Homo sapiens: one gene and its partner. The protein of the gene in region 2 interacts with the protein of the main gene of each other region in a biochemical or structural test. Each region holds a gene or a part of one and is shown on either strand. Other genes may lie near its edges.

The links. The genes of interacting proteins can lie anywhere in the genome.
Region 1: the proteins of PTPN3 (region 2) and PDLIM4 interact in a test that uses a peptide from one of them, tested with the Homo sapiens proteins (one large-scale study listed by IntAct).

Annotation. Positions count from the first base shown.
Region 1 is NC_000005.10:132,256,115-132,259,861, reverse strand, and holds the start of PDLIM4 (PDZ and LIM domain protein 4), read right to left. Parts: upstream 2,167-3,747; 5' UTR 2,128-2,166; coding exon 2,035-2,127; intron 1-2,034.
Region 2 is NC_000009.12:109,488,294-109,491,940, forward strand, and holds part of PTPN3 (tyrosine-protein phosphatase non-receptor type 3), read right to left. Parts: intron 1-3,647.

The DNA of each region.
Region 1 (3,747 bases), on a different chromosome or scaffold from region 2:
AGCCATCATTATAGCTTGTGGGGAAGGAGCCCCGGATGATGTTCTTGGGACTCCTGGAGGCTTCATGGGCTGAGATTGCAAGCCCCCAGCCCTGCCGGGCCGATAGCCTCCTCCCTGTCTGTGTGAGGCTGTCCCTCCCTACCAGGTCCCGCGTAGGGGAGGTCCTGGAAGCAAGGGAGGGGCTGGATCTTGAGCCCCACTGGTGAAGACACTCCCACATATCTTCAGTCCCTGTAGACCTGCCCCAGAGGTACCTGCTAGGCAAGCTGTGGCCTGTGCCTCCCCAGCGCTGTAAATCTCCCCAGATCCCACCCAAACCCAACCTCAGCCATCCTGGCTCCTTGGGCCTGAGCTGCTGCCGCGTGACTTTGGGGGACAAAGGAGGCTCTTCCTGGCAAACCTTCTCCCAGACTGCCTGCCTGGGGCCTGCATCCCCAGTCAGCTCCAAACAAGGCTGTTGCTGCTGCTGCTGCCGCAGCCGCAGCTGTGACGTGTGGAGGCCTTTCCTCGGAGGGCAGGCAGCCGCGTGGGCAACAGATGTCTCAGCTCCCTGCCGCCTGCAGCCGTCAGCCGCCGCCACTGAGCCTGTCAGCGGCCTCACGCCCAGGGTGCCTGGCCAGCCCGCTTAGTGTCCCCACCAGCCCCCTCAGCGGACACACAGCATGACACACACAAGCAGACACAGGCTTGCGTACACACACACACACACACACACACACACACAGCAGGAATCCTATAGGAAAGAGGAGATGAAAGGCTCTGGGATGTGTTGAAGGCCCACCTCACTCGGCCCCAGGGACCTGGCAGTGAGGGCAGATGTGGGAAGCCTCCTAGGACAGCTGGGCCTGCCTGTCACCCTGGCCCCCAGAAACGGGATTCCATGATTCCACGCTCCACCTGGTGCCCACCCCCTCCCAAGAACTGGACAGAAGTCTCTTAAAGCCCAGCCGGCTTGGCCCAGCCCCCATGGCAAGAGGTGGCAGTAGGGTGGGGGAAGGTGCTTCTCTGTGCCTCTGACACAGGCCCCCAAAGACAAGATCAGCCTGTGTGGGAGCAAGGGATGGCCGTCAGATGGTTTCAGGTTATCTCCTCTGCTCCTTCCAGACTGAGAGCCGCCAAGGGCAGGGCCTGGGTTCTCTCCTCTTCTGTCCCTTAGGCTGGGGACCCCCAAGGGCAGGGTCTGAGTCCTCTCTTTTGGCCCTCCAGACACGAGGATGTCGAGGCTGGGCCAGGATCCTGTCTCCCCTAGACAGGCACCCCCTCGAACAGGGCCTGAGTCACCTCCTCCACTCCTCTATCCTCAGACTAGCCACGCTCCAGGGCTGTGCCGGCTCCTTTTCCTTCTCTGTGGGCAAGGCAGGGCCCTGGGAAACTTGAGGAACGGGCCTGAGGCTGTCCTGGCCCCCGGCTTTGTGTCATCTTGTGGGGAGGGGTCTCACAACCTCACAGTTAAGTCTCCCTTTCCCCTGGAAGCCAAAATTCCTCCTGGTCACTTCCCCTTAGGGTGACTGAGGTCGTGAATGAGAGACTGACTCACGCCCAAAGTGGGAAGTGGATGGACCTCTGTCTTCTCAGATTCAGCGAGGACCCCAGACCTCCCTGGGTCACCAAGCTCTGCCGGCAGGGACCCCTGATAGGGGAAGGGGGGCTCTAAATCATTTTGCCCCAGATCTTCAGGCAGGGGGTGAGTCTGAAGAGTTTCTGGGCCTCTGTAGAGCTGTCTAGACCCCTGGCCCATCTCCGCGGGTCCTTCCCGGGTCCACAGTGGCTCCCCCAGATGAGGCCAGCGGGGAGGCGGGTGCGTGAACTCTTGGGAGATTCTTCGCGGGATCGGGCAGACAGGCCCAGCGTGGGAGGAGGGCGGCTGGGGCTGCCTGCCTCTGCCTGGAAGCCGCCTCTACAGCATGCGGGGCGCCCAGGCCAACCCTCCGCCTTCAAGCCTCGGATACACAGGGGATCTGGGTCCCGGGCGGACCGCGAGAACCCGGTCTCAGACATGGGACCGCCCTGCCGCCACGCAGCCGCCAGACTCACCCGTGAGATGGTGAGGGGCGCGCTGAAGTCCCGGCCGCCCACCAGGCGGAAGCCCCAGGGCGAAGGCCCGCGCAGGGTCACGGAATGGGGCATCGCGGGCTGGAGCCGCAGCCGGAGCCTGAGCCGGACTCTGAGGAGGAGCCGCCGCCGCCGCAGCCGCCGCCGCCGCCTGGACGCCGCGCCCGCCCCCGGCCCGCCCGCCCCTGTCCCCACTCGGCCCAGCCCCCGCCCCCGCTCCCTGTGCGCCTGGATTGGCCCCGCGGCCAGCCCGACCCTCCCACTTCGGGGGGCTCTGAGGACCCGCCCTCAGCCCCGGCTGCCGGCAACCCGGCACCCCCACTCAGCTCTCAGAGATCCCCGCGTTCGGACGGCCCCGACGGCCTGGATCCTGCTCGGGCCTTGGATCTGCAGGCCGCGGACCCAAACCCAGCTGTCGACACCGGCCCTTTGAAGTCGCTTTTAGGGGCGGTGCTCCAGCCCGAGGAGGGATGGAGGGCCCACTTGGGGGATGGGGCTGCCCCAGCTCAGATACCTCCTCATGGGCCCGACTGGCACACCTGCGGCCCATCCTGCCGTGTGAGGAGCCCTCTGAACCAAGAACCCTATGAACCAGGGGCTTGCGCAGCACTGGGCCGGGGACGCAGACCCAAAACGACAGCAGGCAGCGCCGAGCGTGGGAGTGGACACAGAAAGGTCCTCAGACTAGTTTGTGGAGGCCAGTAAGGCTTCCTGGAAGAGGTGGTCCCTGACTTGTATCTGGAAGCAAGGTGTCCCTGCTTCCCCAGAACATTCAGGCCTTCTCTTGCTGCTTGCAGGCTCCTCGCAGGCCACCTCCCTGTCTGCACAGCCCCCTCCCCTCGTCCTTTGCCAGGAGATTTGTTTCCCCAGGTCTCCTGAGAAAGTAGCAGCTGGAGCGGCTGGGGTCGTGGCTGTGCAGTGTAAAGGGAAGAAATATATGCAGCGCTTCACTTTGGGCCCTTTTCTCTCCAAGGTCTTCTCTCCATTCCCAACCATTATCCTCCGGGGATGTACTTGAACAGCCAATGCAGATGCCATGGCACCACCAACCTCCCTCTGGTTCTCTCGGCACTTCTATCTGGCTACATCAGGGAGACACCTTTTACTTTTCCAGACTCTGTGGAGGTCTCTCATTTAGCCCAAATCCTTAACCTTATGTGTCCTTTTAGTCAAGCTGTGATAAGGACCCTGCTCTTGGGCTCCTCACAGGTGGTGGGATGAAATGTGTCCACTGGGTCTCTGACAACCCGCAAAGAGGAGAACTGCTTGAGAAGCACAAACCTAGGGCAGTCCAAGGAAGGGAGGGGCCCTTCAGAGTAGAATGTGGGTGCCTCTGTAGGAGGCAAGATGCTGCTATCTGTTCAGCTGGGAGAGAAACAAGTGGTGTGTGGTAGCGGTGTTTATATGGGAGTGTATTTGGGGTGTGTGTGTGGGGGGGGGTGCGGTGTCTGAATCCATTAGAGCACCAGCCATTGGGCTGTTCTCCATCACTTTGTGGTGGAGGAGGTTTCTGCTCAGCCCCTTGCAGACTTGGATCCCAAGTGAAGAAAGGTGGAAGGGCCAGCAGGAGAGCTGGTCACTGCATTGTCTCTCTGAGGTCTGTAGGCCAGAAGCTCCCCAGGACTTAGACCCTACTAAATGGGGTAGAGAGTAAGGGGCAGCCATCACTTATCACTGGCTGTCCTGAGGGTTTGG
Region 2 (3,647 bases):
TTTGCCACGTTGGCCAGTCTGGTCTCGAACTCCTGACCTCAGGTGATCCACCCGCCTCTGCCTCCCAAAGTGCTAGGATTACAGGCATGAGCCACCGCACCAGGCTGAAAGTACATTTTTAAGCAGTAAAATCTAATAACACAGTTAACCAGAAAATCTTTCCAACATTCAGCAGTACTAGTATCTTGCATTCTAGGAACCGGAACATTCCTTTACTAACTGGCTTTTCCATTAAAGCTGCTGATGCCTAGAGTAATAAAAACACGACTGCACTGGACAGTGTTCTTAAAGTTCACATGACTGGGATGCTTCCCAGAAAATAGCTCCATTATCTTCACATTTTCATCCTATAATAATTTGTAATCCAGGAAGGCAAGGTTTGTATTTTCTTCTAGGCAGAAAATAAGTTAAAGAACCAGACTGTATGGATCCCAGAGCCTGACCCCTTGACCGAGTGTCTGGTCACTTGATATTACAAATCTAGACTTCCTGATAAATGGCCCTGTAGTGACCTTGTTACTGGGATCCCTAGATGCTGGTTTCCTGCCTGGTTTCTCTGCATCCAAGTCCCTGTCTGCATCTACTGTCCATCCAATGCCCATCCTCTTCTGCCTGGGTCCCCAATGCCACCTGCTTCCCTGCCTTTGCCAAAGGTCAGTGACTTAGTCATCATCTCAGAACTAGGGCTGGAACAGGGATGTGGGCGTTGGTGCAGGAAGAAGAGGTGGAAGTGTGAGCACTAGAGGAAAGAAGATAAGGTCTAGGGTGACTCCCGCCTCCTGCCCTTCTTTGCTTACACACCCTGGCTCTTAAATTCTATTAGAAATTGGTCAGTGGGAAGCACAGCTGGCTTGTTCATCTCCCTGTCCATCTATCATAAACTCTGTCCCTGCTCCTCCATCCAGCCAGGGTATGTGAGTGACGTTCCAGACTCTGCCAGTCCTTGTGGCAGACAGGTACCATAGTGAGGTGAGAGCTGACAAAAGGCCGGTGTGGCAGGCACAAAGCTGGGAGTGGCATCCTACTGGAGGTGGGACCACAGAGGTGTGGGGACCAAAGCCACAAACATCAGGCCTGCAGGCCATGCAGAGGTTAGTTTTGTCTTTATCCAGGTAGAAGATTCCTAGTGCTAGAGGGTTTTCCATGCTGGCTCACCCTGCACTGATCTCAACCTCGAAGTCACTCTTAAATCCGGACGTGACCACACGTCCGGATTTACCTAGGGCAGTCCCGGCTTAGACCCGTCAGTCATGTGCAATTATTAATAGGACCCCTTTTTATTCTCAAATTGTTCTGGTTGGGATGATAAATTCTAGTTGCACTGTTCTTGGGGGCCTAGGCCTGTGAAGTCAGTGCTGCAGTTAGAGAAGTCTACCCATGATTAGCAGGGACGCCCAGCCTGATGAGTCTCACCCCTCATCAAACATTCCATTTGCCTCTCCAGTATCCCTGCCAAACCATCATCTGGCTTCTGCTTGTATATCTGCAAGGACAGCAGGCTCACTATCTTCTCAGGAAGCCTCTCTTTTTTGGGGAAAGCTTTGTTATAAAAATAGCAGGATTCAAACCTGTATACAGTATGACTGCAACTAAATAACAACATCCAGGCCGGGTGGGGTGGCTCATGCCTATAATCCCAGCACTTTGGGAGGCCGAGGTAGGTGGATCACTTGAGGTCAGGAGTTCTAGACCAGCCTGGCCAACATGGCAAAACCTCATCTCTATTAAAAATACAAAAAATTAGCTGGGCGTGGTCGTGGACACCTGTAATCTCAGTTACTTGGGAGGTTGAGGCAGGAGAATCACTTGAACCCAGGAGGCAGAGGTTGCAGTGAGCCGAGATCGCGCCACTGCACTCTAGCCTGGGTGACAGAGCAAGACTCCATCTCAAAAAAAACAAAACAAAAACAAAACAAAAAAAACCCCACATCACTCAGCAGGGAAAGGCGTGGGGCTGGAAGAAAGCAGAAAACCTGCTGACTTTTCCCCTTGCACCTCCTTCCATCTCTCCCTCTCCTCATTCAACAAATATTTACTGAGTGCATTTGATGGTCCAGGGACTGTGCTTGGCACTGGGGACAAAATGGTGAGTTAAAACAGACTCAATGTGAGGGGCATTCTACAAAATAATTGGCTTGTACTTTCCAAAAACGTCAAGGTCTGGCTGGGCATGGTGGCTCACGCCTGTAATCCCAGCACTTTGGGAGGCCGAGGTGGGCGGATCACCTGAGGTCGGGAGTTGGAGACCAGCCTGACCAACACGGAGAAATCCCGTCTCTACTAAAAATACAAAAAATTAGCCGGGCGTGGTGGCACATGCCTGTAATCCCAGCTACTCAGGAGGCTGAGGCAGGAGAATTGCTTGAACCCAGGAGTCGGATGCTGCAGTGAGCTGAGACTGAGCCACTGCACTCCAGCCTGGGCGACAGAGCGAGACTCCATCTTGGAACAACAACAACAAAAAAAGTCAAGGTCCTGAAGGACCAAGAACAATTGGGGAACTGTCTTAGTTTAAAGGAAACTAACGAGACATGACAACCGTACGCAACCCATTTATAAGAGTTTTTTTTTTTTTGCTATAAAAAAGGACATCACTAAGACAACTGGCAAAACCTAACATCTAGGCCGGGCGCAGTGGCTCGGGCCTGTATCCCAGTACTTTGGGAGGCTGAGACAGGCAGATCACTTGAGGTCAGGAGTTCGAGACCAGCATCCAACATGGTGAAACCCTGTCACCACAAAAAATACAAACATTAGCCGGGCATGGTGGCACACGCCTGGAATCCCAGCTACTTGGGAGGCTGAGACAGGATAATTGCTTGAATCCAGGAGGCGGAGGTTGCAGTGAACTGAGATCACACCACTGCACTCCAGCCTGGGTGGCAGAGTGAGGGACACTCTCTCTCAAAAAAAAAAAAAAAAGTATATAAAACTTGAGGTTTATAGATTAAACAATGTTGTATCACTATTAATTTATTGATTCTAAAATTTGTATTGTAGTTACGGAATATCATCGCTTTTAGGAAATATATGTAGGGGGAAAGGAGGCATTGATAAATAATCCTCAAATGGTTCAGGATAGATATATATGTACACAGGGATAAAATAAAAAGAATAAAATGGTAATGTTTGGGGAATCTGGGTGAAGAATTTATGGGACTTCTTTGATTTATTCTTACAACCTTCCTATGGGTCTGAATTGTATCAAAATAAAACATTAAAAGAAAAAAAAATAAAACTTAGAAAAAGTTTTTTTAAAAAAGAGACCCTGCCTTCACACAGCTTACAGTGTAGCCGGGAGACAGGTACTAATACAAATAATTACATTAATTAACTGCAAAATTGCCACTAGGAAAAGTGCTATAATGGAGAGAGATCTGGTGGCATGAACATTTATAGCAACAATTTAACTCAAGTCAGGAAGGTGAGCAAAGGCTCTGCAATCATGGAGCTGAGACCCACAGGATGAAGTAATCAGTGGGGAGGGGGAGAAGGTCCCAGGCTCTTGCAGTCCCTGCAGCAGGAAGGAGCACGGTGAGGTGAGGGCTCAAAGAGCATGAACATAGGGCCTGCAGGAGATGCTGAGAGATCAGCTTTGTCTTCATTTTGAGAAAAATAGGAGTGTATGGAAGACTCCCCCGTCTGTG